Linked DNA regions of Homo sapiens: region 1 is linked to region 2. Evidence: fine-mapped expression QTL. A gene starts in region 2. The other region holds a variant in brackets. All regions are shown on one strand. Distances are between the middles of the regions.

Region 1 (15,997 bases), 51 kb after region 2:
CACTGCTATTTTCAAATGAATTCTTTTAAGTGTCTCCTTTCAATTTCTAATGCAGTAAACATCAATAGCATTAGCCCACATAAACAAAAGCTCTTTGGGAAATCTCAGTAAGTTTTTAAGACCGTAGAAAGGAAGGTCATACCTTAAAATGTAGCATTGATTGAGAAAGGAAGGAGGAGAAGAAATACAGAATGATACCATCTATGTGAATTAAAAGTGCCTACATGCAAAACAGCCACAGTGCTTTGTTAGAGCATTTTTCTAAAGGCACCCAAGACAAAGAGGAACGATGCCTGCAGTGGGAGAGGGAGGCCTAGGAGTGAGAAATCTCATTCAAAGGGAATAAAACAAGAGAGGGACCTCACAGAGACCCCCTGATCGTGACCTACCATGTACTGCGGAGTGTGCTTAACTCACCCTCTGCATCAGAGGCTTCCACCCTCCCTCCCACAGAACAACAGCCCCCTTGGTCCCCTGCCCTGCTGCAGCTGCAGTTCCCCAGGACAGAGCTGACGCCATCCAGAGACCCTCCCCTGGGCTCCCAGCATCATCTGGGAGGATTTTCTCCAGCAAACCCACACAAGGTGAGGAGCAGGGGTGAGTCTGTCACCAAAGGAGCAGCATTGCAGGATAGGGAAGGCCAGTGGCGAGGCGAGCACACTGATCAGAGGCCACTGACATTGACTAAAGGACTGGGTCAGTTGCAGGCACAGAGCGGGAGCGCTGGCCAAATGGGAAGCACGACAAGCAATGCAGACGCAGGCAGAAGGAGACAGAAGTGGATGGCAGGACTCACAACACCCTCTTCCTGGTAAGGGCACATGTTCAAGGTGCATGCATTAGACAGCCCTGTACCCAGGGTGATGGGGAGGGAGGAACAATGAACCCAGCAGCGACACACGAAGAAGCCAGCATGAGGGGCCAGGAGCCCAGAGAAGAAGGTTCTCCAAAGGCACAGAGCAGTCACAGGGTCCAATCCCACCGACACTGACCGAAGGGCACATGCTCCTTCACTTTAAGCCAGCAATGGAGATAAACACTCGTCATCAACACCAAACGACTTCCCTGGTTTCTGTGTAACCAGCACTCCTGTCCGGAAACTTGCTGCTTGTCAAAGAAACACACCTTACTGTCATACGGTGCAGCTGTGACATTGCTCAGATGACATTTTTTTGTCACGAGCTGTCATATGACAACTTCTTTTTTTTTTTTGAGCGTTAGTACAGGCTGTGCATTGTGCTGTACTCACACCCAGGGGTAAGGTGAGGAACAAAGGCAGCCCAACCCCTGCCCGCACACATGAGCCCCGTCTGGCGAGATGGCAAAAAATCACAGCAATGCTCCTGCCCTCTGGAATCCCACCCAAAACGCCGGCCTCTCATCCTATCCATCCCCTTTGGTAAGCAAGCCCCTCTGTCTCCACTTTGTCATCTTCCCTCTATCCCCCTCTGCTCTCTCCTCAAGCCCAGCCTCTGTCTCAGCCAAGCTGGTCCCCGTGGCCTTCATGGCCCCCAGCAATTGGCCCAGGACAGGCTTCTGCCTTGGGACTGTCCTCTTTGGGACCAGGGAAATGATTTGCAAGTCCCAGTGCTGAGAGAAGATGTGGGGCCTTCTTCTTCAAAAGTCATTAGACATTAAATGATTAATAATCATTTAATTAATAATTAAGGCAGCAGCAGAGCATTAAACCAAGCTCAGGGCCTGAAGCCAGCCCTGCCCCATCTTGAATGTGGAGACAAGAGTTTATCTCCAACCTGGGACCCATTAACATGTCCTGTTGTGAGCAGGGGACGTCGTCAGCCTCATCACTAACTGCTCTGAAAGCAACCTAGAATCTCATCAGCTTCCCCGAAGAGCTTGCTGAAATTCATCAGAACAGAAATTGCAAACTGAAATGCAAGGTGAAGGAAAAGCAAGGGTTTTAGATATGAGTTTTAAAAATTAAAGTTTTAAAGAGTCCTGCCTGACCACAGAGCTATACCCTAAATCCCAAGAGCCCTTGGCCCTGCTGCAGTTGTCCTTGGTCACTCAAGGCAGGGACGGTGGGATAGGATGGAGGGTCAGCCAGGGCTTGCTGTGGGCACCCAGAGGGCAGAGGCCTAAGGGCTGTGAGCTGTGCCCAGAGACACCACCTTGGGGAGAGACGCCTCACTCACCAGGCGGCCCTGGGAGTCCTGGAGGAGGAGGCCGCAATGGACTCCCTTTCCACTGTGACTTTCCTTAACCTCTGGTTTTATGAAAATCACGGAAGTCAGGATATTTGCTCAGAAAACAGGATATTTAATCAAGAACCAAGTAGTTCAAAGCATGGCCACAGTCATTGTTAAGAAGCTGCAGAGACACAGGCAAAAGTATGGCAGGGGAAAGAGATGGCCCAAGAGGGCAGGGAGGCCACACATCCTGGAGAGGAGGCCCCCTCACCCAGAGCATGTCTCAACTGTAAGATACAATAAATCTTTCTGAGTTTCTCTTCAAAAGGTTTAGCCTGTTAACTTCCTTATCCTTTGTTCTCAAACTCAACTTTGTTTTTCCTTGGCCCTAGTTACCGTAAACAGCCTAATCCTTCCCATCAGCTCTAATCAATAACTCACATCTGTTCCCTTGGTTACCTGTACCAGTTGTTCCCCAGAAACTGCACGTCTCACAAGCTCCACCTCTGTACCTCATGTCCCCCTCCTCTGCTATATTTAGGAAAATATGTACAAGTAGCCAGTCGGGTCAGCTCAGATTGTGTGGTCCAACCCCAGCTCCTGGGGGAGTGACACAGAGATAGGGACTGTGTTAAAGATAAAAACCCCCTGGTCTCCTTTGTTCTGTGTGCACTTGGGATCTTGATTGACACAAGTGACACCCTTCTGCAGAAGTAAATTGCCTTGCTGAGAGGATTAAACTTTTGCCTGCGTGTGGTTTTACTTCCCGGCACTGAGCATTTATTCCTGGAGTATTTTATATCCAACACAACCAATGAGAGACAGGAGCTGGTGGGTCAATACCCTAATTTTTGGTGCCATTTGCTATCACTCACTGCCCTCATCTTGCCTGCCTCACCCTCCCCAGCATCCAAAGCACAAGTCAGAAAGCAGTTGAATCTCAGGGTGAGAACAAAGTCTGACACATCCATTCATGATGAACCCAGAGGGCAAAACACTGTCCACCGTGGTTTAAAAGAGGCAGTCCTCTTCCCTTCCAGATGGAAAGAAGAGGTGTCACTGAGCCACAGCCGGGAGAACAAGGGAGGCCCAGGTACAGCCAACGCTCTCCTGAAAATTCAAGAGGAACCTCACACAAGCCTTCAGGACGCCGTCTACAGCAAGTCATGGTTCTGCAATGCAAACAAAGTCAGGAAGAAAGAGGGAGGTTTGAAAACAATGCGGCCTTCCAGGCCCGAGTGAGAGGATGGGTCAGCCGGGCAGGAGTGACCGTGTAAGTATCGCAGCAAAGGAGGCTGAGTGCTCCCTGCATCAAATCAATGCTCATCTGGATAATGAAAGTACACCCTCACAGGCCTCCAAGAAGGTCACTGGCAAAACGTCCCACTGGTGGACAGACACCTGATCAGCAAGGGGCAAGAGCAGAGGCTGCTTGAAGAATCTAAAGCAAACAAACAGAAAATCCAAGACCTGGATAAAAAGTGAGAAATACAAGAAAGGCCTGACACAATTCCAAGTTGCATTCTGAACAAGAACACCACAAACCCCTTTTCATGGCACAGGGTGTTAAAAGAGCTCTTGCCAGCCGGGCGCAGTGGCTCACGCCTGTAATCCCAGCACTTTGGGAGGCCGAGGCGGGCGGATCACGAGGTCAGGAGATCGAGACCATCCCGGCTAAAACGGTGAAACCCCGTCTCTACTAAAAATACAAAAAATTAGCCGGGCGTAGTGGCAGGCGCCTGTAGTCCCAGCTACTTGGGAGGCTGAGGCAGGAGAATGGCGTGAACCTGGGAGGCGGAGCTTGCAGTGAGCCGAGATCCCGCCACTGCACTCCAGCCTGGGCGACAGAGCGAGACTCCGTCTCAAAAAAAAAAACAAAAAAAAAAAACAAAAAAAAAAAGAGCTCTTGCCACAGAGTCACTTGAGACACATTTCTGGGCAAATACACAAAGGAAGAGAGACTCTTCAACCAACTGTGTCCCTCCAAACAGCCCTGAGAAGTAACAGTCATCAGAGACTTCCCAGAAGATACCCTCGACCACCAGAGTTCTGGCCCTACACCCACATGGGTGAGGTCTTCCTCCCACCACCAACAGCCAACCTGTGAGGTCTTTCTCTTTTTGCTGAAGGGGCCCAGTGTAGACTGGAGGCCTCAAGACTAGTTCCTAGGGCCATCTGAGGCCTCCAGTGCAGTACCTACCTCCTATTAGATACAGCTGAGGCCCCACCAATACATACAAGAGACCCTTCTCCTCTAAAGAGCTGGGCATCAGAGGCTGCCCATGGTTTCCATGATTTCCATGATCACACCATGACAAGGGAGACCACCACCCACCAGGAGGAATTCCTAAGCCTCTTCTTCTTCCCACTTAGGGTTCTTCTTAAACCTTCTTGAAAAAAACACAATCTGTGCTTTCCCTAAATAAGGACTTCCTTTTGCCTGAGCAGGTATATGCAGACAATAATCTGAGGTTTGAGATTAAAAAAAAAATCTTTTTGACCACTGTAAAAGACTGCCACCAAACTATTTCCTCCCACCACCAATCACGAGCCAAGCCACAAAGTCCTCATCCCTCACTGGGGAGCTCAACCTCAACTGGGGACTGCGCCTGCTGGGGAAGCCCCTCCACTTTGTCCCAGGGCTCACCTGGGGTCTCTCCTGACCTTGCATCTGTGCTTTGCTGCAACCTTCACTTCTGCAGGTAAGTACACAAAAGGTACCGTGTCAAAGTATCAAAGAGGAACCAACCCGGTTCCCAAAATGATGGCGAATCCAGTGTCAGCCCAATCAACAGCTCCTCAGCCTCCCTCCCTGGTTCTCCTGAGTTAGATTCAGGAGACTGGGGTCCCATCTGTGGAGGCTGGAGGCTGGACGTGCTTCAACATTGGCTATGCTGTCTGTATACATAGCAAATGAGAGGACTCAACACTGCTAGGATAATCTGCACCACAATCCTCTGTGCAGCGTGCCTGGCTTTAAGAGAGGTATCCTTGGAGGCGTGTTTGCAATTGACTCCAAATCTGAAACCCCAGCACTGTGACCACAACACTCACAGGAAACCAGAATATCTGAAACGGTGATGACTTTCCACACTGATTTGGTCTCATCATGCTGCAACCGACATTCTAGTATCATTATTTAGAGAGTCCGGGGATAATAGCCACCTCTGCAGAGAGCTTCTTCAATGCCTTGAAAACAGCCAGCAGCATTTCTACGGTGCACACACCTCGCCCAATTCTGGACATCTCCACCTATGTTACCTTTTTCTGTGGCACAACCATGCTATCGCAAGGTGCTAATTGGAATCTTAAGCACCGAGTTCACAGGACCAGCTGCACAAATGATGGCCCAGGTCTACATGATCAGAAAGGAGGCTCCAATGGCCATGCCCAACACCATTGAGACGTTTGTCCTAGAGCTCAACTCCATGCTGATTCTTGTAATAGAAAGATATTCCATGTGATACCTGGGGCCATCAACCAACTCAGGGCAAAACTAGAACCTGCTTCTCTACGCCAAGGCATAGAGGCGCTCCTTGTTGTACCAGCTGTGTTTCCAAAGCTTGCTTCTGGTGCTCTGTGTCATTCCTGGGACAACCTCAGCAAGGAGGAATTATTATGCTGCTAAACTTGTGACTGAAGGGCTGCTCCGAAGCAAGCTCTGGAGACATTCAGAAAGAAAGTTTCTCCAAAATCTGGAGGAACATTTCTCACTCCAGAGCAGCAACACTTCTGTGAATTGTATGGAATTCCTGGGGAGATTTTAGAGCAGGTGTATAAGAAGCCAAACAAGAGAAGAGCCGAACCATCCATAGAGGATGGTGCAACAAAGCAGCAGCCAAAATCAGTGTTGGAGACCCTCCTCACATCCGGGGTGCCAAAAGGAGGTGCCCACCCACTCCCCAGGATCTTTTAGGCCACCTCCTAAATAGTGGAGACTTCAAATGCATCCAACTCTTCCACCTCTGTCTCCTGCTGGTCCTTCTCCATAAGACCCTTCTCTGATCTTTCCTCTGAATGAGGAACTACTAATTCTGAGGCTTGTGGTTAAACAGAAATGTATTCACCACAAATGAAGATTATCTCAAGATCTTGCTCCCCACAAAATTAACTGTTTCATTTTAATTGTAGCTCATATTTTAATAGTAAAGGACTGAAAGGTTTATGTTGCACTTAATGCTCTCAAAAACCTTTAGGGTGTTTGTTTGTTTGTTTGTTTAGAGACAGGATCTCACTCTGTCACCCAGGCTGGAGTGCAGTGGCACAATTATAGCTCACTGCAACCTTGAACTCCTGGGCTCAAGTGATCCTCCCACCTCAGCTTCCTGCATAGCTGAGACTACAGGGGCATGCCACTGGGCTCTGCTGAATTTCGTTTCTTTTTTTTTTTCCTCTCTTTTTTTTTTTTTTTTTTTTGTAGAGACAGGGTCTCACTATGTTGTCCAGGCTGGAATCCTTAAGGTTTGCATAACGAGAAACACAGTAAGAACCAAGTTCCAGTTGATCAGGCTGCCCTACCAGATTAAGGAACTCGTACTTTATATCCAATGGGGCTGCAGTTTGGAAGCCCTGTAGTCGTCGACTTTCCCTTTAAGCAGTGCACAGAAATAGGAAGAGATCAATAAAGCCCAGAAGAGAAATCTTGCCAAACTTCAACACAGCAAATAACAACCACTTATCGAGGGCTCAACTCCACTAGGAACATCACAAAGCAGCAGTTCTCAGTTGGGGGCAATTTTGTCCCACTCTCACCTCCCCAAAGACATTGAGCAATGTCTGAAGACATTTTTTATTGGTGAAACGAGGTGGGGATGGGGTGGAGGGTGCTACTGGTATCTAGTGGGTAGAGCCAGAGATGCTGCTAATCACCCTGCAATGCACAAGTCAGTCCACAACAACAAGGAATGATTTGGCCCCACATGGCAAGATTCCCCAGGTTGGGAAACTCTGGTATAAAATAAAGGCACCTGAAACACGCCCCTGACCCCAACCCCAGGCATCCAGTCTTTATGTCATGATCCCTCTGAACATCTTAGTTAAGCTATTGCCTTTGCTCCTAAGGGAAAAAAAAATATTTATACATGCATACACAGAAACAAAGCTTTGCAATTTTGGGGGGCAAGGTGACAGAGCAGGGGCCTTGCCATTGTGGACAAGCACCTTATTTTAAAATTCATCTTAATCAAAAACCGCCTAAAGCCAAAAGGCATCAGCCTAATGGCTAAGGTCGGCATGACCAGAAACTACAAATAACATCTCCGACCAGAAACATTCCAAACTCCTCCCCAACCAGAGACATGCTAGCCCCAAGATAACCCCCCTCTGGCTGGGAAGATGCCAGCCCCAAGATAACTAACCTCCCTCCTGCCGGAAAGACGTCAGCCCCAAGATAACCTCCTCTCTGCCCAGAAACATTCCGACCCGGCTA[T/C]AGACTTCTCCCTGACCCAAAAACATTCCAAGCTTGTGATAAGACCCTCACCCTAAAACCAATATATACTTTTAGTCTGTAACAGAAAGCGCCCCTGACCAAAATCGGCCAGAAGCCCCTCCAGGTTTTATCTAAAGTAAACCTGTCTTTAAAAATTTCATGTTTTTTTCCTCTTTCTTTAACTCTTACACAAGTGTTCATCAATCCCTGATGCCCATTCAGGAACACTCCTCAATCCCAGACACCCAAAGATACTGAAGTCAGGTTCTTTTCCTTTTTCTTTTTTTTTTGTCTCGCTCTGTCACTCAGGCTGGAGAGCGGTGGCGTGATCTCAGCTCACTGCAATCTCACCTCCTGGGTTCAAGCGATTCTCCTGCTTCAGCCTCCCGAGTAGCTGGGACTACAGGTCTCCATCTCCTGACCTCGTGATCCACCCGCCTTGGCCTCCCAAAGTGCTGGGATTACAGGTGTGAGCCATTGTGCCCAGCTGAGGTCAGGTACTCTTTTTAGCGAGTATTCCCATTTTAAAAAATCTTTTTAAATAAAAAGAACCTGGCTCCAAAAAAACCATTTGCATGTATGATACCTCATTGAAACCTCAGAGCCATCCAACCGGGTCAGGTCTACCCGAATTGCCATGGACAGAGAACAAGACTGGGGCACCGAGAGGTTTAGATGACTTTTCTGTGGTGACACAGCCAGTGAGTGGCAGAGACACAGGAATGCCACCCCACCCCTGCTCTGGCCACCACCGGCACTCCAGGTTCTGACACCCCATGCCGTGGAATCGCACGGTGGGATCCCAGCTGACCCAGGGTGCTCCGTCTCCACCCTGGCTTTCCATCTGGCCCACACAGGTGAAGTGCAAAGGCTGATCTCAGAGAAACCATCAGAGGTACTATCACACTGCCTCATCAGTGACAGTCACTCTCCTGGCCAGGTGCATGGGCGTGGATGTGGATCACATCAGGTGTGGAACAGAGGCAGCGCACTCCTCGAGCCCCAGGTGTTTGTGGGAAGCCAACCATACCCTGAATCTCTCCTAGGTACAGGTAGGCCCAGGTGCAGCTCTGACAGGCTCGCCACTCCCGGGCAGGAAACCTCCCAGCCTCAGTCAGCTCCTCTTAATCAGCCCCTCTTCATCTCCAACCAGGATCACCAGTCTGCCAGGCCCCTTCCTGTGCTCCTCAGGAGGCCAGCAGTCTGCCAATATCTGGAACTTAATGAAATGAGAGTAAAAGTGAATCCCTGAGGTTGCCTTATTTTTCCTCCATTGAACCTCTTTCCAGTTCCCTCAGTCTCTCTCTGCCTTTGTTTTATAGTAAGAGGCTACATTTGGACCAGGTGAGCTACTGGTCACGCAGGAGTCGATCTTGCTGTCCTCCTCTGGCTGGACACTATGGCCTGGAACTGACTTCCAGCTCAGGAGTTTGAGCCCAGGAAGCTTATCCTCTGTTTTCACATGCTAGTAGTCACCCTTTTGGTCTGATTGCTGTTGAAAACCACGCAATACAACACCTGCAACTCTGTCGGAAGCCTGTGACAATCAAACTGCATTCACCCAGACTGTGTTCAGAGGCGCATATGTCTTAGAGTTTGCAAATGCATATATTCAAGTCTAAAATCTGTGTTTCAGAAAGCAACAGCCAACCAGATTTAGCAAGTCCCACCCATTTGCCGTAGGTACACCAGACCAATTTTTTAAATGAGTAAAACATTTTTTTTTTTTTTGAGACTGAGTCTCACTCCATCGCCCAGGCTGGAATGCAGTGGCACGATCTCAGCTCACTGCAACCTCTGCCTCCTGGGTTCAAGCGATTCTCGTACCTCAGCCTCCCAAGTAGCTAGAATTACAGCATGTGCCGCCATGCCCAGCTAATTTTTGTAGTTTTAGTAGAGATGGGGTTTCACTATGTTGGCTAGGCTGGTTTCAAACTCCTGACCTCGGCCTCCCAAAGTGCTGGGATTACAGGCATGAGCCACCATGTCCAGCCAAAACATTATTTTAAAGCTAAGCTCCCCACCCTCTTGCTATTCCTTTGGTTCCCCTCTCTCCCCGGGACAAACCCCATTCAACTCTAACATGCATCCCATCTCTGGATATTTCTCACTGTTACAAGGCAGTCATGTAGCCAGGACCACCGTGTCCTGATGTCTAGTGTGTTTGACAACTAACAGAAAAGGGATTTGGCGTTTTTATTTTATTTTGAGACTGAATCTCACTCTATCACCCAGGCGCAATCTTGGCTCACTGCAACCTCCACCTCCCAGAGGCTCAAGTGATTCTCCTGCCTCAGCCTCCCAAGTAGCTGGGATTCTAGGCATGCACCACCACATCCAGCTAATTTTTTGTATTTTTAGTAGAGAAGGAGTTTCACTGTGTTGGCCAGGCTGATCTCGAACTCCTGACCTCAAGTGATCCTCCCACCTCGGCCTCCCAAAGTGCTGGGATTACAGGCATGAACCATGGCGCCCGGCTGGAAAAGAGATCATCCTGTCCACAGCTGGGCCCTATTCGGGATCATCTCTTAGGAGGGCCCTAGCTCCTTTCCTGGACTGTATCTTGTCCCCATGATTGAACAAGGGTGGCTTTCAGGAAGAGGATGGGGAAAGTCCAGCCCAGAACCAGGCCCTACAGCAGAAGGCAAAAAAAAAAAAAAAAAAAAAAAAAAAAAGGTGATTCCCTTGACTCTGGCCCCCTAAGGGCAATGTGAGCCCCCCAAAACCATGAGTCCAACTCCCTGTTGTCTGGGGAGCAGCACCACAGCCCAGGATGGCTTGGGGGATGCATTGGATGAGGGAGAAGCAGGCCCACAAAGGGGAGATGAATGTGTCAAGATCACACAGCCAGGCAGGGCACAGTAGGGACTAGACCTGTGCTCAAGGTACTGGGCCATTTTGCATTTCTGAATGGGCAGCAGCATCAGAACCTTCATACTCCTCATACCACTGACGGCAGGCTCTGTGCATGGGGATATCCTTGACCCTGCACCTGGCACAGAGGGAAGCCAGCCAGCTGCGGACAGTCACGCCCTGGGGCTCTGAGCTGCTCCACTGCACCTGGGGCATCCTGCACCGGGGTGGACAGTTCCCAGTCAAGACGACGAAGACTAGGAGACCCGACCTGGGAACTCTACGTGGCGCCAGAGTGCCCCCTGCTGGCTGACCGCCAAGCAACCCAAACCTCACGTCTGCATCTAAGACTTCTCTTGACTCCCGCCCAGGAGAGCTGAGGGTTGGGTTCAGCGCCCACCTTCTCCTAGGAAGTTTCTCCTGGACCTGCTCTATCCAACCTCTATCTCAGCTGCCGACTACAGGGCCCCCTGCTGTTTCCAGTTCCTGGCCCACCCAGAGTTTTTCCTACTCATGTGGGCTACCCCCAGGACACTGGGAGCGAGGCCCTTGTTTAAGGAATCGTCTTCAGCATCACGGCAGAGGAGGAGCCCACCCATGTCAGGGTGAGTGCTGGGGTCTCAGGGAAGCCCGTCCACCATGGGCAGCGACATTATTTTCCCAATTGTTCTGCGATTCCCATCTCTCTTGGGAACAGGGCTTGCGCTCTGACTGTGAGTGAACAAGATGACCACAAGGGGGCAGCAGAGACAAAAAGCTTCGCCTGAAAACCATTTGCTAAAGTTCTCCACCCACGAGGTAAATCAGTTCCCAGTCCTGGCTGCACACTGGATTCACCTGGTGAGCTTTAAACACTACCGATGCCAAGTTCCCACCCCTACAAATGCTGAGTTAATGGCCCTGGGGTGCCATCCTAACATCTTTTTACAATCTCCCAAGGGAAACTTTAATTTAAAATGCAGAAGGCAGTGGAGGAGGGAAAGAGCGACCTTTCAGGCCATTCTTCTATCGGGCTAGGGCTGAGGATCACTGGGTTAGACCCTTGTTAATGCAAAGCGTGGCTCACGGACCACCAGCATCAAGGTCACCTGGGAGCTTGTTAGAAATAAGGACCTGCCCCAAACCTACTGAGTCAGAATCTGCAATTTAACAGATTCTCCAGAGAATTCATCTGCATATTAAAAGTCTAAGAAACTTACGGTCCTCTTTACCAAAAAGGCACTAGGGAGGTCCTGGTCCAATGCCATATGTACAGTCTGTGGATGCACAGATTAAAGCCCCGAGGCAGGAGTCCCTTTGCCCAAGGTCATTGGCCATGTATTCAGTGGGATGGCACAAACCTGAAGGCCCTGACTCCAGGACCAGTGCACCTTCTCCCACAGCACCCTGCTCCTCCAACCCAGAGGTGGGCCTGGGCACAAGAGGGCAGGAAATGGTGGCAGGAGTTTGGTGGGGTCTTTGAATTTCCCTGTTAGCACGTGTCCTGTGGGGATCCCAGGGATAGCTAAGATACCATCCCTGGCTCAAGGAACTTCTATCCTCATATCTAACTCTGGACAGACGCACTTGGTATCAGTCAAACACAACCTCTTACCTTGAGTCACGTACTAGAACCATCTCTAAATCTAGCAAAACAGAGGAGGGAGAAAAAGACTAGTTTGGATACGTAGCCTGGAAAGGTTTCCTGCAGTCCAGGCAGTGCAGGAGGAGGGTGGGTTAGGTTTCAGGGGCCAGTGGAGGAGGGGGCTGCATTTCAGACCAAAAGACCAAGATGAATGAAGGGTATAGATATACAGGAAAGGATCCACATGACCAGGGCATAGGTAAGGGCTGGGAAGTTGTGGGAGATAAAGCTGGGATGGGACAGGGGCTCGCGGCACAGACCAGACCCTAAAAGCAGGCAGAGCACTTGGCCAGGTAGAACCAATTCAGACCCTGGGCTGGAGGCCACAGAGAGCCATGGAAAGTGTTTGAGCCAGGAGAGGAGTCTGGGCCTTGGAAAGACCTTCCAGCATCAGTCCTGTCAGGTTTTGGAGATGATGCAATGAAGAGAGAGGCTACAGGAACCCTCATCCTGAGAGCTCACTGAGTACACGGATCAAGGCTCATTCATCTCAAGGTCACCAGCATTTGCCAGAGTATTAGCCCCTGGAAGGTGACCTGCAAACAACCATCTCTAAGGGAGACCAGCCTTTAACCCAAGGATGATTTCATTCTTAAGGTCCAGGCTGGGCACGGTGGCTCACGCCTGGAATCCCAACAGTTTGGGAGGCCGAGGCAGGCGGATCACTTGAGACCAGGGGTTTGAGACCAGCCTGGGCAACCTAGTGAAACCCTATCTCCACACACACAAATATATATATATATATATATATATATATATCCGAGTGTGGTGGCACATGCCTGTACTCACAGATACTTGGGGGGCTGAGGTAGAAAGATTGCTTGAGCCTGGAAGGCGGAGGTTGCAGTAAGTCAGGATCGTGCCACTGCACTTTGGGCTGTGTGACAGAGCAAGACCTCATCTCAAAAAAAGTAAAATAATTAATAAATAAATAAAACTTAAGGTCCAGAACAGGAAACGTAGGTCATACTCTTGGGACCTTGAGCTTGTTACACTGTGGGGTGGGGATGACCATAGAAATTCCCTTGTGAGATTACAGTGAGACTCACCTGTGATAATGCGTGTTACCTACCTGGCATCTAGGTGAGGCTCAATGTCATGGCAACTCCATTCTACCTGCTTTTCCCAGGGCTTCTGTGACTTTGCACCATCGTAGTAGTCTCTGGAGCCCCTTGAGATTTCCCTTCAATCTCTTCTTGCCTCCTAATTAACAGCAGCATTTATTGAATGCTTTGACCATATTAAAACACTTTGCATATGTGAACTCGTTTGGTCCTACAGTCATGCCTTGATTCATTCTCTAAATTTTTATTTATTTATTTATTTTTTGAGACAGAGTTTTGCTCTTGTTACCCAGGCTGGAGTGCAGTGGCATGATCTTGGCTCACTGCAACCTCCCCACCTTCTGGTTTCAAGCGATTCTCCTGCCTCAGCCTCCCAAGGATTACAGGCGCCCGCCACCATGCCTGGCTAATTTTTGTATTTTTAGTAGAGATGGGGTTTCACCACATTGGCCAGGCTGGTCTCAAACTCCTGACCTCATGATCCACCCGCCTTGGCCTCCCAAAATGCTGGGATTATAGGTGTGAGCCACCGCACCCGGCCCCATTCCCCAATTGAAAGATGAGAAAACTCAAGGGCAGAGCTGGCACATGAGCATAACAGGGACTTGAATCTGATTACTGGCTCAAGCACCCCTCTCCTAACTACTCTTTCTCATGGCCTCCAATGTGTGACTGACCAAGACTCTCCCCTGGCCACTCCATGACCCTCAGGCCACGATCTCCCTCCATAACTCCTTCTCTGACAGTTGAGGGGGCAAATCTCAAGTCTTTGTTCTGAGCCTTGGTCTTCTCCTTTGACCAACATAACCACATGTCCAGAGACCAGTGGGCTAGATCCACATGGACATCTGTCTTCACCTGAAACCCAACCAGCCCCAACTCTAGTCTGAGCCTTGGGCAGCTTGCCCTTGGTCCCTCCACTACAGTACTGAGTTCATTCTCTCCGGAAGTCTAGTTCATCAAGGCCCTGCTGGTTTCCACCCAGGACTGTGGGATCCTGGAGGACAGGCATCTGTCCTCAGGTGCCTCTCACAGCCCCAAGCACAGTAAGTGCTGGACTTACCTCTTCTCTAGCCAGCATCCCTCCCAATTCACCTATTTCAGCTCACAGTGCTACCCTCCATCCCTTGACCCATCCCTCTCCAACAGCTGCCTCATCCCCCAATGGTCCTCTCTGCTCAGAACCACTTTCACCTGCCTCTTAGATTGTTCACTCCCTGACATTCCACCCCACCAACTGCTCCTCCCTGCCCTCCAGCAGGCTCAGGTGAAATCCAACCCCACCCGTTTTTATTTATTTTTTGAGACAGGGTCTCCCTCTGTCATCCAGGCTGGAGTGCAGTGGCACGATCATGGCTCACTACAGCCTCAACCTCCCTGGGTCAAGTGATCCTCCCACCTCACCCCCCCACAAGTAGCTGGAACTAGAGACACGCACTACCACACCTGGCTAGTTTTTTAATTTTTTGTAGAGATGCGGTCTTATCATGTTGCCCAGGCTGGTCTCAAACTCCTGGGCTCAAGTGATCCTCCTGGTTCAGCTTCCAAAGTGCTTGGATTATAGGCATGAGCCACCGCACCCAGCCTACCCCTTGAAATTTAACCATACTCTGTCCCCATTCAAGTTAGTTTCTGTGACTTTCCCAGTGAACTGGAAACTCCTTGGGGGAAGGAACTGTGTCTACTTATTTTTGTCCCCACAACACTGTCCCAGTAACTGGCATATGTTTGAGGACCATTTTAATGTGTGTGTGAATTGTCCAAGTCTTTTCTCTTTTTTCTGTGGAGTATTTCATCCTCTGTCCCTCAATTTTTAAGAGTTCTGTATATATAAGGGAGATTAGCCCTTTGTCTGTGGTATGTGTTACAAATATTTTCTCTCAATTTTTCAGTTACTTTGGTTTCTGTGGTTTGGGTTTTTTGTTTTGTCTGGTTTGGTTTGGTTTGGTTTGCCATGTCCAATTTGCCAGAATTTTATTTCATTGCTTCTGGATTCTGAGTGATGCTTTCAAATCCTTTCCTTACACTGAGGTTAAGAGGAATTCACCCACGGACTTTTTCCCCCTAGTACTTACATGTTTTCATTTTTTACACTTAAATTCATGATCCATTTGAGTTTATTCTTATATATGCTGTGAACAATAGATCTAATTTTATCTTTTTTTAAAAAAAAAAAGACTACCCCATTATCCCAGTACCATTTATTAAAAAGTCTGGGCCAAGCACAGTGGCTCATGTCTGTAATCCCAGCACTTTGGAAGGTCAAGATGAGTGAATCACTTGAGGTCAGGAGTTTCAGACCAGCCTGGCCAACATGGGGAAACCCCATCTCTACCAGAATAAATAAATAAATAATACAAAAATTAGCCAGGTATGGTGGTGCACACCTGTAATCCCAGCTACTTGGGAGGATGCGGCACAAGAATCGCTTAAGCCCAGGAGGTGGAGGTTTCAGTGAGCTGAGATCGTGCCACTGCACTCCAGTCTGGATGACAGAGCAAGACTCCATCTCAAAAAATAAATAAATAAATAAATAAATAGTCTATCATTGCCTCTGAGATTTCACATGCCACCTTTATCATATACTAAATTCCCATTCGTACTTAGGTCTGTTCTGTACTTTCTATTCTATTCCATTGGTCTGTCTGTCTGTTCATGTGGTCAATGCCACACTGTTCTAATTACAGAGGCTTTATAGTTTGTTTTAACAGCCCATAGGGTGAGGCCCCCATTTTGGTCAGTTTTTCCCTGGCTATTTCAGCATGTTTATTTTCCATAGAAACTTTAGTATCAGCTTATCAACTCCATGAAACAAAGCTTATTGGTATTTTTATAGGAATGGCATTCAATTTATAAGTCAACTTGGGGGGAAAAGGGC
Region 2 (15,997 bases):
CTGCCTCAGCCTCCTGAGTAGCTGGGACTACAGGCGTGCGCCAACAAGCCCAGCTAATTTTTGTATTTTTAGTAGAGATGGGATTTCACCATGTTGGCCAGGCTGGTCTTGAACTCCTGATCTTGTGATCCGCCCACCTCGGCCTCCCAAAGTGCTGGGATTACAGGCGTGAGCCACCACGCCCTGCCTTTTCCTCTTTTTATAAGGGCATTAAGCCTATTCATGAGGGCTCCACCCTCATAATCTAATCATGCCCCAAAGACCCCACTCTGAATACCATCGTATCAGGGGTTAGGCTTTCAACATCTGAATTTTGAAGGGATACAAACATTTGTCCACAGTAGATTGATTCAAAGACAACTCAAACTCAACACATCCAACAAATGCAGGGTGTATCCTTCTCAAATCTAGTCCTCTGCCAGCATCGCCCATCTCAGTCAGTGTCTGCTTTTCTCCCAGGTGCCAATACCAACTGGGAATCGCCCTCTCCCTCACTGTCCATATCCAACTCATGGCCAAATCCTATTTTCTGCCTACAAAGTTCCTGATCACTTTGCTCCATGACCACTGCCCCTCTGGAGGCCCAGGTACGGCCGTGTTTCCCAGACAGTCTCGGGAGTCACCTGATAGGTTTCCCTGTGTCCACTTAGACTCCTCGCTAGTCACCCCCTACACAGGAGCCAGAGGGAGACCATAATCCTGGTTATGTTTGTTGCTGGCAGAAAACCCTTTGATAGCTCCCAGTGCTCTAGCGTCTGGCCCTGCCAACCTCTCCAGGGTCACCTCCACCATGCACCCACTCGTCCCACTGATCTCCCATCCCTCTGGCTTTCTTACAGCTCTGCCAGCACGGAGCCTTGGTGCATGGGGTTTAAATCCAGGAATGCTCACCTCCTCCCTCCTCCTGGTTAGTTCACTCTCAGGATGGCTTCCTACTCATGCTAGATACGGTCGCTCCCTGATATTCACTCTGTTTTCACTTATATGTGTGATTGTGTGGTTTGATCAATGTCTGTCTCCCTCACTGGACTTTAAACTCCTGAAAGGAGGAATCATTTCTGTTTTGCTAGTACAGTGCCTGGCACAAAGTAGCTGGCTAATCAATATTTTTTACACAGCATGAATGAATAAAATTTGTAATGAATTCATGAGTGAATGAAATGCAGCCCTTATCTTTGAACATCTCATTCTCACATTCCTGCTGCATTCTGGGGAATCCTGGAAGTGGGGCACTGTCCCTCTAGGGACATTTTTCCCATCCTTAGTAAAGGAGTCCAAATTCCTGGCCACCTGGAAGTCCTGTTCTGGCAGGAAATAGAGCAAATTTGTTTGCAAATCAAGCCCAGGGCTCCCTGCCAGGCCCCCAGGCAGAGCCAAGCCGGCCTCACACGGACGCCCTGTGGATTTGCACTCATGCACGCTACATTTCCTTGTGTCCTCCTTGCCTGCACCTTTCTCTTCGTCCTCCACCTCCTTTCCTTAGAAATCCCATCTCACTATATGGAGTGATATGATCAACTTCCAGCTCAGCTCAGAGAAGATGAAGGGACTCTTCTAGATTAGCCAAGCACATTGGTGGATCTGGAACCCAGTTATTCCGAGAGCCCACTCGACAAAAAAGAGAACAAAAACAGCCAACACCATCGACCCTGTGCCAATCACGGTGCTAGGTAATTTGCATAGATTATTTTATGGAATCATTACAACAATCCTTCTACACAGGTTTCATTAGGATTAGAGAGAACCTAGAATTCATTTACTAGATGAGGGCCAGTAAACTATGTCCCACAGGCCAAATTAGGTCCACCAAGTTCTTCTTCTTCTTCTTCTTATTATTATTATTATTACTACTACTACTAAAAGAAGTATTATTGGAACAGAGTCATATTGCTCTGTTTACATATTATCTATAGCTGCTTTTGCACTATAATACCAGGGTTGAGTAGTTGAGACAGAGAACCTACGGCCCACGAAGCAGCCCCCCTCAAAAAAAATTCCTATTTAGCCCATTACAAAAAAAAAGTTTGCCAACTCCTGTTTTAGATGACACCCTTCCCCCAGACTCTCCCTTTTATATTTGAATTCGTTTGTCCGAATGTTTTTTTTTCACCCAATGTTAAAGCAAACATGTTCCGCAGCTTGTTTGAATTTTCTGTGTTGAGCACCCAACACTAGAGGTGTCAGTTACTTTCACCATGCCCATAGATGTCCCTAAGGGAAATAGGCCCCTCTCTGTGCTGCCCACTGCCCTCCTGAGACTTGTCCCCAGCCACAGCTGATTGGACTAAGAGATGGGTGTCCAACCCTAGGCGGCCTTGCAAGGCAGGACAGCAGCTGATGATCTGAATGGCTTCACATGAAAAGATAAGCTAGACCAACCAGATTTTTCTCTCGGGAGTCTGGAATATGGAAACAGAGGCAAGGCTGTCAGGGGAAATGGAAGGTAGAGGAGTCTTGGGGACAAGTTGTGGCTGGTGACTGTAAAGGGCAAGGTTGTAAGGATGCCTGCTGGGAGGGAGAGAAGAAAATAGAGGCACAGTGCACACAGAGACAATCTGTGAAGGAGTGGCCCTGTGCTCTAAGAGAAAGAGGGACAGAGAAATTTGGTTCCAAAAGGTTGCCTGTTTCCAGCTCCCATGAGGACAACTGTCCTCTTCATGGATTATCAGTCAGGTCTTTTAGGTTGCAAATGAAAGAAAACCTACCATAAATGGGCTTGAACACTAAAGGGTATATATTGACTCGTGCAACTGAGAAGTCCAAAGGTACTTCAGGCTCAGCTTGATCCAGCAGTTCAAATGATGTCACTTGTGACCTGACTTCTTGCAGTCTCTCTGCTCTGCCTTTTGCAACATTGGCTTCAACCTCAGTGTCTACTCTGTGCTCTCTCCCATTTCCCTCACTCCAGGCTCTGCACTCATGGTGTCAAGATAGCTGCAGTGATTCCAGACCTCACAGCTTCACACCAGACTGTCTGCAAATAGACAGGAGGTCCCAGTAGCTCCTTTGCATTCTGGGATATGATGTCTCATTGCCTATCCCTGAACCAGTTGCTTTGGCCAGGGTGGAGATGGGTTGCACTCATTTGGATTAAACTCACCATCACTTGCCTTCGGTTTTCTCCCCTGTAATAACATTTGAATGCTTATTTTGTTCCAGGCCTTGCATCACCCTTAACATGCATTACCTCTCTTAATGCTCACAAAGCCTGTGAGGCAGTTACTAGGATTATCCCCATTTTACCAATGAGGAAATACAAGCTCAGAGAGCGTAGACACCTTACCCAGGATTACAAAGCCAACACATAGTAGAACTGCCGATAAAAAGCAGATCCAGGAGCTGAAAGGGGCCTGTGGAATTCTGGAGCCTGAGCCCTCAGCCCCTGTGTCCCTGCTTGCGGAGGGAGGATCACCCAACAGCCCCCAGCTACTGCTATTTCACCTCCTGTTGCTATCCTGGTGACCCAAATCCTTTGCACAGAGGGAGCTGTCCATAGATCTCAAGTTTCAGACCGGGTTATTCACAAGTCCTGCTTCCACCTCTGGGTTCCTCTGGTTTCTCTATTTTCTCCACCACCTCAGTCCGTTTCCATGGAAACTGCTGGGCTCCTGCATCCCTTTCATCCTCCTTTCTGGGAAGCAAGGCCAGCTCTCCAGCACTCCGGTAGCCAGGCCTGACCATTATAAAAACCAAAGAAGCAATATCTGGAAGAAACACTTCTAGGCATAGGGAGGTACCAGGTCAGGCTTCGTATTTTTTCCTTTGAAGTGCTCCAAAATAACACCAGGTGCTCTAAGGAGCTCAGCCAATTACCGAAGCCCAGTGGATCCTGGCTGGAAAGTTGTTTGTCATCTGTCCTCTGACATCTCACCACTTCAGTCACCAAGCCTCCCTCCCTTCTTGAGGGAGTGATTCTAGGGTCCTGGGGCAGAGGGACAGTTGGGCAAGTCTCCCTGCCAATCCTTGGTGTCAGATCACAGCACTCAAATGAGCTGGTGGGCTGGGGATGCGAAAGTGAAGGTGGTCCCCAGTTTGCCCTTCTGGTGGAGGGAGGAACCAGCCATCAGAGAACTGGTGGGTAAACAGTGGGCTTGGCATTACTCCTTAACGCTGGGAGGGGCCCTGTGGCTCCAGTGGCCAGGGTCCGGGAAGAACTTTATACATAGTGCCCAGGAGCTTGGCACCTGGTCCACAAAGACTCCATATACCATGGAAACTGGAGGGGACAAAGTGTTCTTGGTACCCCACCCCTCCCAGGTCTTGGTTGGGTGTTAATCTCTCTGAGCCTTGATTTCCCTATCTTTGGAATGGGTCAAATTCTTGCATTGCACACCTGATAGGGGAGTTGTGAGGACCAAACAAAGCAAGACACATCAAAACCCTCTGTAAAGGCATTTAAAGGTATCCTCACGGTTATCGCCATCATTGTCGTCATCATCATCATTATCATTATTGTAATAAAACTCGAGGGGAAGTCCTGGAAGGGAAGCAGAACCCCAGACATCTGAAATTACTTACAAGAGCCTTAATTCACGGAAATGTGCTCATAAATGTTCCGTCTTTACCGTCACTGCTTTAAAATACGCTCATCGAACCTCTCTTTCCTATCTCTGAATGATTTCTTATCTGAGTCCATGTTTCTCCTCACACATTTGGTTATTGAAACTTGGACCAGTCCAGCTAAGACTCCAGTCTCTTCTCCAATGCAAAGCTCTTCTCCTTTCCCATTGCAAACTGGACAAGGAGCTTGGGTCTGGAGCTGAGCCTGGAGAGAAGGGATGGCTGGCTCTAAGACATCCCCTCCTGGTAGGGCAGAGGGAGCTGCAAGGAGAGATGAGGGGCGGGAGGTCTTCCTACCTCTCTGGTCGCTTGCAGGTTGTAAGAGCATCCCAGGCTTTGGCTCCCGCTGCTGATCTCTGAGGAATTTGAGGGCCTGTGCATAGTGGAGTGAAGGTTTTTTGGAGCGGTCTTCAGCTCCGCTCTAGCTTCCTCAACACCGAGGATATCATAAACACCAGCAGGTATCTGGCTTCGGCCCCCTCTTTAAACTATATGCACCTTTCCCAGGAGCCATAGCAACCCCCAAGGGCTGCCGAGAACCATGGTGGCTCCCATCTTCCTTCTAGACGCAGGACAGGGCAGTCTAAGCTGCTTTCATAGGCCATCAGACAGCTCTGAGTCAGAAGCAAGCGCCAGTCCCAACTCCATATGTGGCCCAAACTCCAGAACACTGCTCACCCCAGCCCACTCTGGAGCCAGGTGACATCTCCAGTTCCTCCTTGCTGCTGAAATCCCCCACAACCTGAAGGGGATTTCTGGGGGTTCCTCCAACAAAACTTGACTTCAGGACAGCCACAAATGCTGCACTCCCAGAAGGCCAATGCTCCTCTCTCCCGCACCCAGACATCTCCCCTGATAATCCCTGGCCTTGGTGGGTGGTGGCGGGCAGGCTGAGCAAGCCAGGAAGACACGAGGCATCTGATTGCTGTGATTCCAGATGTGGCCTAACTGCCACTATTTCAGAACAACAAGAAAAATCCCTCCTCACATCCTTGCATTGGTAAGAATACCTGCCTATTAATTAAGCACTTACGGCTGCTGGGGTTCTTGCTAGCTAACCCCTTGATTACATTCTTTTTGGTGCTTCCACTGACTTTGTGAAACTAATTACCTTGATTTTTAGAAAGGTTCAAAGAGGTTAAATAGCTTTGCCCAAGGCCTCACAACCAGCAAGAGGGTTTTGAGCCCATATCTATCTGACTCCAGGGCAGGAACTTGTAACTGCTCAATGTGGCTGTTTCTGCAGGACTCAACTTGGAGATAAACCACAAACGCACCAGCTTGGGCTCCTCAGTCCTCCAGGAATGGGCCTCCCAGAAACAGACCAACTGTGCATCTGAAATGAACGAGGCAAGACTGTCCCAGTAGACAGTTTAAAGGTCACTGTGGCCACCCTACTGTCATACCCAGAACCATGTCCCCCTGATCTCAACAGCTCTGGAAAGCAGGAAGTAGGAGCTTCACTCTTTACTCCTCACCAGGAAAACCAAAGTAGCATGGAGACACTGGCTTTGCTTCTTGGAGAAGCAGGGATGAGCTCTCTCACCCAACACAGATTTGGGACAGGGGCCTGAATGACAGGTGTCAGAGCCCACAGGGCTGAGCCTGGCCCCGTGGGGGGCTGTGCAGCGCAGTGGTTAAGAACTTGTGTTCTGGAGACAGTATCTGTCTTAGCCTTTCCCGTTGGCCTCCCGTTGGGGTCAGCCCCTCCAGGATCCATTCATTAGCTACCCCAGGGGAGGTGATGCTGACTGAGAAATTTCTTGCCAAGCCAACCACTGATCACTGGCTCCATGAAGGGCGGCAGGAGCCCTAACTCATTTAATCCTCAGAACAATTATATTATTATTATTATTACTATTATTAGAGACAGAGTCTCGCTCTGTCGCCCAGGCTGGGGTGCAGTGGTGCGATCTTGGCTCACTGCAACCTTTCCGCCTCCCGGGTTCAAGCGATTCTCCTGCCTCAGCCTCCCAAGTAGCTGGGATTACAAGCATGCACCGCCACGCCTGGCTAATTTTTTTTTTTTTTTTTTTTTTTTTTTTTTTAGTAGAGACTGGGTTTCACCATGTTGGCCAGGATGATCTCAATCTCTTAACCTCGTGATCTGCCCACCTCGGCCTCCCAAAGTGCTAGGATTACAGGCATGAGCCACGGCACCCAGCCAACAATTCTAAAAGGCGTATGCCCACATGCCCATTTTGCAGAAGAGAAAAACTGAGGCAGAGACAGGTTATATAATTTGCTCAAGGTCACACAGCTTATTCTGGGATTCACACCCAAGCAGCCTGATTCTTGAGTGCCTACTCTTAACCACTGAGTCATCCTGCCTCCCTAGGGACTTTGGTGAATCTCTCAGCAAGGTGGATGGGTACCTCTAAAGCTAGCTTTTGATGACTTCTCCCCCCAGTCTGTTCCTGCAAGTAACTCTAAACACATTCACCCTAGGCAAAGAACAAGTGGTTTTGGAACCTGCATTCTCTATTGCCCCTTTGAGACTCGCTCTGGGCTTGGCCCTCTCTCCAAGGGACAACCCTCTCTCTGTCTCCTCCTGGGTTCCCCTCTCCCCCAGCGACCTCCTTTTCATTCTCACTTACCTCCTTGCCTTTCACTCTCCTCTTGGAAGGTGGTTCAGCTAACACTCATTAGCACATGTTAAAGATCGCCAATTCATGTCTCAGTCACTCCGTAGCAGGAGAGGGGAGAAAGGAGGGATGATGCTGTCACTCTGTGGGTAATGTGTCTTACCTTACCACACCACAAGGCCAGGACAGACCCCTAAGGGCTCAGACCGCAGGAGAGAATGGGGAGAGGGCCCAGCTCCCTGCTGGGGAGTCCTGTCTGCTGCCCTCAGGATGTGCGCTCAGTAGCTGCGTCTATTTTCTCTGAGACCAGCTCAGAACATCCCCAAGACAGAGTTGGACGTTGTTCTCTGTCCACTGGAGCAGGCACATTCCCACGATGTCCCTAGGTGGGCGTGGTTAAGACCTGGTACGGGTTGATCTAGTTCTGCCACCCCCTGGCCAAATGTCTAAAAGCCCCCCAGAGCATGGCCAGCGTGAGGCAGGTACCAGGGGTGGAGGGAGGCTCCGAGGGGACGGATATACGAAGACCCAAACAGACAGTGGAAGCCCCCCACCCCCACCCCACACCACTTCCATCGGAATCCTCCCGGGGCACTGCTGATTCCAGCTGCTCCCCACTAAAGCCTTGAGAACTCTTGGCTGCTCTGCAAGACTGAGCCCCATGAAGGAGCCACGTGCGGCGTGGAAAGAGTGCTGAGTTCAAATTGTAGCCCTGCCACTAATTTGCTGGGCCAGTCACTTAATCATCTGAAGTCACAAGTACCTCATCAGAAAAGTGGTCCCAGCTCTTCCTGCTGTGGAAGGATCAGAAGAGAGGAGGCACGACAGAGACCTAGTGAACTCCGAAGCCCGAGTGCTAAATATTTGTCAAGTTTGTGTTAGTATTACTATTAGTGTTGTTACTGCTGTTATTATTATTGCTACTGCCAGCAATAATAAGTGGTGGATGTACTCAAGACGGTCGGGAGGGAAGGCAAGGGCAGCCTCTCCCTCATTTTCACCGAAAATCCTCCGGGTGTCCCTGGCCCCGCGCCGAGGGGTCTCAGCGCAGAGGTAAGGGCCCTCTAGGAGTCCGGGCCGAGCCTCTCGCGCCGCCGCCCCCGCCGCGCCGCGCCCCGGTCGGATTCCCTGAGCGCGCGCGCCCCCTTCTGGCGGCCGGGCGCAGGCGCAGGCTCCAGAGCGTATATAAGGGCAGCGTGGCGCACAACCCCAGCGCGAGTGCCAGAGCCCAGCCGGCGCGGAGCGGGAGCGGTGCAGGCTGAGGTCTCCGAGCGGCTCGCCATGGCTGGCCCGCAGCAGCAGCCCCCTTACCTGCACCTGGCCGAGCTGACGGCGTCCCAGTTCCTGGAAATATGGAAGCACTTTGACGCAGACGGTCAGTAAAGCTCCCAACTTCTGTGCCCATTGGCACCCAGGGGACCTGCGGTGAAGGGGGCAGGGGGCGGCGCTGAATGCGGGCAGGTGTACGTTTGCCCTCAGGAGGTGGTCTGGTCGCAGAGCCTGCTGGGGTAGTGGTCCCGGGTTTGGGAGACATCCGGCTGCTCTGGGCACAACTGTCAGTAACTTTCTTCCCTAACATAGATGACCCAGAGCCCACCCGCATTTGCACCTTTATTCTGAGCAAGTGGGAGCTTTCTCAGAGAGGTGGCCTGGGCTGGGAAGGCCTCCAGGTTCCCCCTGCCATCTCCCCCACCTCCCCTGCCTTCAGCTGCTCCAGCCACAGGTCTCAGAAGACCACTCATTTCTTTCCTCCTCTTCCCCTTTTGTTGAATGCTAGGTTAGCCCCCTTACCCTGCTGGAGGCTGGGATAAATTAGGGGATCCTGAAGGGAAACGTGGCCTCCCCAGCTTGATTGGCTGGGAGCAGGAGTGGAAAATGGCATTGGGGGCCCTGAACACCCCCCTGCTTCCTTTGTCCATTTTCCAGCCGCCGTGGGCATGTAGGTTTCCCAATACAGCAGCAGTGGGTGTGGTGGCGGGCAGCGTTGGGGTGCCAGTCCCAGACCTGTTCCCTCATAGTGATAATCCTGGGTACTCTTGGTGACTTCATCTCTGGGTAGGGGGAGGCACCACCCTAAGTGCCTCAGTGACTAACCCTCTGCTCTGTGTGGTCTTGACACTGACTCACCCAAAAAGCAAGGGCCAGACCAAATGACCTTTGGAGGTAGCCCCCAGCACTGGGATTCCAAGTGTCTGTGGTGGTCTGACTCAGGCATAAAGGGTGGTCCTCCTTTAGAGGCTTTTGATATCACTAGAGACTCTGTTTCTGTTACTCCGAAAAAATAAGTGATCTGATTTCCCTCTCTACGCACAGACCTGGCTAAGATGAGCATCCAAAATATCCTGGCATCTCAGACATTTTGTGGTGTCTGTAGCTACCCTCCCCTCGGGTAGCTAATGGCTCCTGGAGGGGCTGACCCCAAAGGGAGGCCAACGGGAAAGGCTAAGACAGATGCTGTCTCCAGAAGACAAGTTCTTAACCACTGCACTGCACAGCCCCCCAGGGGGCCAGGCTCAGCCTTGTGGGCTCTGACACCTGTCATTCAGGCCCCTGTCCCAGATCTGTGTGGGATGACAGGGAGTTTATCCTGGGGTCTGAGAGCAAGGGGGATGGAAAACAGAGGGGCATCAGGTGTGCCTCACTCCATTCTTCCCTCCTCCCTTCCTCGCCTTGGCAGGGTGTGGAGGTGGCTGGGCAGAGATCCTCTGCCCAGAGTGCTATGGGGAGGCAGGGGTTAATGTCTGGGGATGCTAATGGGTGAAATTTTGTTTCCTTGGAGCCAACTGAGAAAGCTAGAGGGGTAGGGGACTAGGCATTTGAATACCTGAGTTAGGACTGTGATCTGCCTATGAATTACTGATGGAAGTGGGTAGATTGTTAAATCTGTAAAATGGGGCTAAGGAGGGATTGTGTTTCCAATCCCCAGCTCCTGCCATAAAATTCCCTTGGTACAAAGTGCTCTCCTAAGAGAAGTGCAGCCTTTTAGTATTCCAGATGACATGCACATTCCCTAAGGAGGCTCCTGCCAGTTTATCTGCACCAGACTTGCATGATTCAAGGAAAGTTACCAAGCAGCCAAGGTTACACCACTGGCTTCCTGGTAGATGAGTCAGCTATAAACAGAGGACTCTATAGTTCTACTTTCCCCCATTCTCAGAGGGACAAGCAAGAGCACTGTCCATAACCACGCAGATCCTTACGTTGATCTGAGACATTGTACTTAAGCACAATTGCACCTTCTCAAGGTGTGAGGCTGCTGGGCAGACCATGACTCCCCTTATACAGATGAGGAAACAGACACAGGGGTTGACTTTTCCGAGGTCATGGAGCAAGTTACTGGTGGGGCTGGTTCCTGGCCAGCGTTTATTCTCCCACTCTGGTTCCTGAACACCTGCTTGGTTTGGAAGAGGGTTTTTTTCCATGATGATAGGTATAAGTCTCCCTCCCATTCCCCCAAAGAAAAGCCCCCAGCCCACCCTTGGGGTTGATGGGCAGTTTCGTGTATCCCAAAATGGGGTCCTTGGCTTGGCTAGAGTGTAGTTAAGCTACCACCAAACCCATGATCTTCAAAGCCTCCTAAAGCCATTGTGCCTCTGGCTCCCTCCTGCTCCGGGGTGAAGGGGGAGCTTGATGCTTGCACCTTCTTCCTTGTCCATCAGACTTCCACTGCCATCTCTACATCACAGCCTCAGGGAAGTCCCAAGGAAAGGCCATGGACCCGACAGAGAAGGAGGGCCATGAGGATTAAAATACCAGAGATGAGAGAGAGGTGACTTAGGAAGATATGTATACAGCCAAATCGGAATTCCACAAAAGGATCCAGAATTAGGCTTTGGGCGACCTTCCTCCCCTCCTGAACACCCAAAGGCTGCCAGGTGAGCCCAACACCGCAGTGCCTGAGGCACTCCCAGCCCTGTTTAGGCCTCTCTCCTACCAATTCTGGTTTCCGTTTTCAACATGGGGTTTCTTCCCAATTCTAAGAGTACCCCCTACCACTCACAATCTTAAAAACACCTGAGAGAACTCTCCCTTGCAGCTCTCCAGGTCCCTGGAGTGGGCTCGCTGGAGCCCAATTAACCACAGCCCCCAGAGAGTTGGAGCCACCTCCCCACCCCTTCTGGATGCTGGCTGGTAGTAAACAAAGACAAAGAGACCTTAGGAGGCAGCTGAATCCCAACGAGAGGGAGGATGGGGGCAGGAGGACCCTTAGCCCATTCCAAAACAGAAAAAGCCACCATCACCCTAAAGAGTTGGATTATTTTCAAAATTCTTATTAGCTTTGTGGTAGAGAAAGGAAGAAGTGTATGTTTGGAGAGTGAGAAACTAGGACTCAAAGAGGCAAAATTCTTTTCACAAGATCACACAGCAAAGCAGGAAGAGGTGAAGGGGGAACCAGGAATCTGGTCTCCTAGTCCGCAATACCACTCCACCAACTCTGCCTCAGCAGTCAGCCAAGAGCATGCGTTTGGGAGGGTTCCAATGTTGTCTCTCAAAGGCTGAGGTAGGGAAGATGACAGCCAAGCCCACCCAGTGACCCTGGTGGGGTCTAGGGCTCTTCCGAACATCACCTCCATGCTCCGAGTGGCCCTGACGTGGCCTTACGTATCTGAGCCCATTGCTCTGTTGCTTCCTGGACACTTCTGTATCAGGACCTTTCCCCCTCTAAAGGATCCAGGTGGCTGAGGGATGCCCAGTTCAGAGTTCACACTGTCCTTTATTTATGGTTCTGATTAGACAGGCCACCGGGCTCCTATTTTACTGACCATCTGCGAGCAGCAAAGTTGTGGCTCCAAAGAGAAATGCCTTAGCTTTTGCTACCCCTTTGAAAGCAACTAAGAATGTAAAGATAAGATGAGTTCTCTTCCAGGGGCAAGCAGACATTCATGGGGCCAAGGTGAACATCCTACTCCCTTCCAAGAATCTAGCCTACATAGATATACTCGTATGTGCGCAGAAAGTTATATGAACAAACATGTCTATTACAGTGTTCTTCGGAAATACTAACAATTTCAGTGGGTGGAGGGGAGAATGTGCTTCACTGGGGGACAGAAAAATAAATATGGTCATCCCTATGATGGAGTATGATAGAGCGAAGTGAAGCTTTTGTAGTGACATGGAAAAATGTCCAAGATGTATTATTAAGATATTGTTTAAAACTGTAGCTGAACACTATTATAAGCCCGTTTTTATTATGAATGATATATGTATGTTGCAGGATATTTAGAAAAATACAACTGAATAATAGCGGCTCTCTCTGAAGAGTGGATGAGCCAAATGAAAGGGGATTTTCTTTTACTTTCTAAGTTAATTTCCATAGCACTTGAAAATTTTACAAGAGCATCTATTTCCTGTGTAGTCAGCAAAACAATAAAGATATAAGAAGGGAGGCCAGGCACAGTGGCTCAGGCCTATAATCCCAGCACCTTGGGAGGCCAAGGCAGGAAGATCACTTGAAGCCAGGAGTTCGAGACCAGCTTGGGCAATACAGTGAGACCCCCCCTCCCCCTACTACAAATTTAAAAATTAAGCAGGTGTGGTGGCGCACGCCTGTAGTCCCAGCTACTTGAGAGGCTGAGGCAGGAAGATGGCTTGAGCCCAGGTAGTCCAAGCCTGCAGTGAGCTATGATTGCACCACTGCACTCCAGCCTGGGCAACAGAGCCAGACCCTATCTTTAAAAAAATAACTAACTAAATAAATAAAGATATAAGAAGAAAACAATGTGATAGACACCTTTTCTTCCCTTGTAAGAAATATGTATATGTCTCCAGGTGGGGGGATCTGCCTATACTCTTCTGGGCTTCTGTCCACCTCCAAGTGGCCCAGGTGACGTAGGGGGTGCTCAAAGCCTCTCACAGGGACTGAGTCCTGTTCCTTATCTATGTGGACCCTGAGGATTTTGAAAATAACAACAGAGGCCACAAAGGGCTGAGGATGGCTCTACGCAGGCTCCCATCCTCGCCCTCTGAAACCCAGTGACCTGGCAGAAGTCTTCTCCAAGCCCACACAACACTGAGGACCACTCAGGGCCAGACTGCAGTGCCCAGGCAGGCTCTTCCAGGGCACGGGTCACTGCTCATTTGTTTGTCCCTGGTTTAGGGAATGGGGAGGAAATTTAGAACAGCAGCACCTCTCAGAGATGAACGGGAACCTGGGCAACTGGCCCTGGGCGGCTGCATGAGAGGTCCTGCAATACCAAAGTGAAACACATGCTGAAATAGGGTCACAAAATATGTGATGTATATTAAGTGTTTATATAAATGACACAACAGTTACAATGCTATAAGGTAATCATAGGATTTATCAAAACGATTGGGTCTTGGCCCATTAAAATCAACAGGGTCCGACACTGGGAACCAAGATTAAAGTTGTCAGAGGAGCGCTTTCTCTGAACCCTGTTAGTGAACCTCTGGGGGTCTGTATACCTCTCAGCTGGGCGTGGCGTGATGTCAGGATATGAGGCTCTCAGGGAACAGCCGCCTGACCCATCTGGGGTAGGCCCTGGAAAATGTCCCCCACCCCTGCCTCTGCTCCCTCCCCCAACTCCCCAGTTTTTTCACTAACAGCGTCCTTGGGTTGTGGAGTGTCCACGTGCAGCAGCTCTACGCTGGGTACCTCCAGGTGGGCTCTTGCCTGCTATGGCTCTGCTTCTCAGACTCTGATTGCACCAGCCGGCAGCGGGGAGCAGCTGGTCTGTGAAGAGCTGGGGCTCCCCGGGGGAGCCCGCCTAAGGGACCCGTTTCACAAACAAGATGCCAGCCCTGCATTGCCTTGATATTGACAGCCAGGCCGGCTGTCCCTGCCCTGCTCAGCTTGTATATTCCCCTCCAGACTTCAGCAGCTTTACCAGCCAAGCCCCTGAGGGAGGTTTCCAGGGCTAAGGAGACCCCTCAGGGAAATCAATTCCAAAACCAAAGGAGCTAGAATTAATAGAGCAGGCCTGAGGCTCTTCAAGAACAGTGCCTCTCCAGCCCCAGCCTGCCGGCGGATTGCATCCCAGGCCCTCCTTTGCCAAGCCGGCCCATCTGGGGCCTCTGGCTTCAGCCCTCCCTCTGTCCTTGTTGGCTCTTCACTATCTCCCCTCTCACCCAATCTGCCCTATCCTTCTGGCCTCCCTCATGCCTGGGACTCAGCCCAGCATTAGGCTGCCAGATGTCCACAGGTTCAGGGGACCCAGCCCAGCTCCAGAACCACGGGTCCAAAGCAGCACAGCCCAGAAACATAGATTGAAATTCAAGTGCCCAAACATTCAGCTGGTGGCTGGTAGCTCTTCACTCTGGGGCTTATTCTTTTTTCCAGAAGCCACTGGAAGAAGCGTGTGTGTGTGTGTCAGAGAGAGAAGCCAGGACAAATGCAGATATGGACAGACATTGTCCCTGGGACAAATAGAAGGAGGCCAGGACCTCTGTCAGCTGTGGCTGAATCTCCTTCCCCCTCCGATTCCTCCTTTCTAAGATGGGGTTGATAACTGCTTACCTGGCAGGGTCGTAAAGAACAGATGAGGTGGGAAGTGGAAAGCTTTTTGGGAATGGTGCGCACCAAGCAAAGCAGGATTAATACTGGGGCAGAGCCTGGGGAAGCCAATTTCTTACCCCAAAGGGTAGGATTTGACTGTCCCAGAGGGTGCTCCAGATGGAGGTTAGAGGACTGTTTGCCTTCGATAAATCTGAACTCCAGATAGACCGACAAGCGGCCTGGCCTCCTGGATGCCTTCTGGTGCAGCTTAACGAGGAAATTCCTTAACGAGGAAATTCTGGTGCAGCTCAAGGAGGAAGGTGCGAACCTTCCCTCCTTTGACCTCTCTAATCTATGGACTGCGAGTGCTACACAGACTGGTGCACTAGAAGCGACTGGACGCAACATCTTGAGTGTGCTGAAGGGCTGCTTAGAACACAGGCTTCTGCACCCCATCCCCAGAGACTCAGATTCTGTAGTCCTTAGAATTTGCATTTCTAAGAAGCCCCCAAGTGACACTCATATGTCTGGCCTAGACCAAAATTTGAAAACCACTGAGCAAATGCGTCTCAGATTTTAGCACACTGATGAATCACCAAGACAGTGTGATCCATAGATTGTTGGGCACCACCCCCCAGAGAAAGATTCAGTAGGTCCAAGGTGGGCCTGGGATTCTGCATTCCTAACAAGCACCCAGGTAGTTCCAATGCTACTGGTCCACAGACTGCACTTTGAACAGCACGGCGTTATGCTCCAATCCTACTGAATTAGGATCTCCACTTTAATAAGTGGAGATTATTACGGTACTTTTTATGTACCCTAAAGTTTGAGACATGCTGCTCTGAAGCGGTTCCAAGCCTTTACTGTTCTGAGCTTTAGAATCACCTGCAGAGCTTTGAAAACACCCCCTTCCCCCCATCCATTAAATCAGAAATTCTGGGGATGGGGCCAAGGCAACAATGTTGTTTTCAGATATTCCCAGGTGATCCTAATACACAGCCTCAACTGAGAACCAGTATTCTTTTTTCTTTCTTTCTTTGTTTTCTTCCCTCTCTCTCTCTTTTTTTTTTTTTTTTTTTTGAGATGGAGTCTCACTCTGTCACCCAGGCTGGAGTGCAGTGGCAGGATCTTGGCTCACTGCAAGCTCCACCTCCCAGGTTCACGCCATTCTCCTGCCTCAGCCTCCCAAGTAGATGGGACTACGTGTGCCCGCTACCACGCCCGGCTAATTTTTTGTATTTTTAGTAGAGACGGGATTTCACCGTGTTAGCCAGGATGGTCTCAATCTCCTGATCTGTGATCCACCCACCTCAGCCTCCCAAAGTGCTGGGATTACAGGCGTGAGCCACAGTGCCTGGCCTTTTTTTTTTTTTTTTTTTTGAGAGAGAGAGAGTCTCGC

What was found.
Region 1: its variant is fine-mapped to the expression of CALB2 in atrial appendage (GTEx, PIP 0.98).

The regions. Positions count from the first base shown.
Region 1 is chr16:71,401,738-71,417,734 of GRCh38, forward strand. It overlaps LINC02136 (long intergenic non-protein coding RNA 2136), which reads right to left. Exons shown (of 3, transcript NR_146574.1): 2 at 13,128-13,258; 3 at 8,704-8,797. Among named protein-coding and RNA genes, the nearest start is that of LINC02136, 17 kb to the right of the region's middle. RefSeq lists enhancers at 10,285-10,786, 10,860-10,949. The variant T/C (reference allele first, on the strand shown) is at 7,579.
Region 2 is chr16:71,350,367-71,366,363 of GRCh38, forward strand. CALB2 (calbindin 2) reads left to right here and starts at 8,357. Exons shown (of 11, transcript NM_001740.5): 1 at 8,357-8,520. The coding sequence starts at 8,427. RefSeq lists enhancers at 8,088-9,053, 10,080-10,374 and a silencer at 8,156-8,385.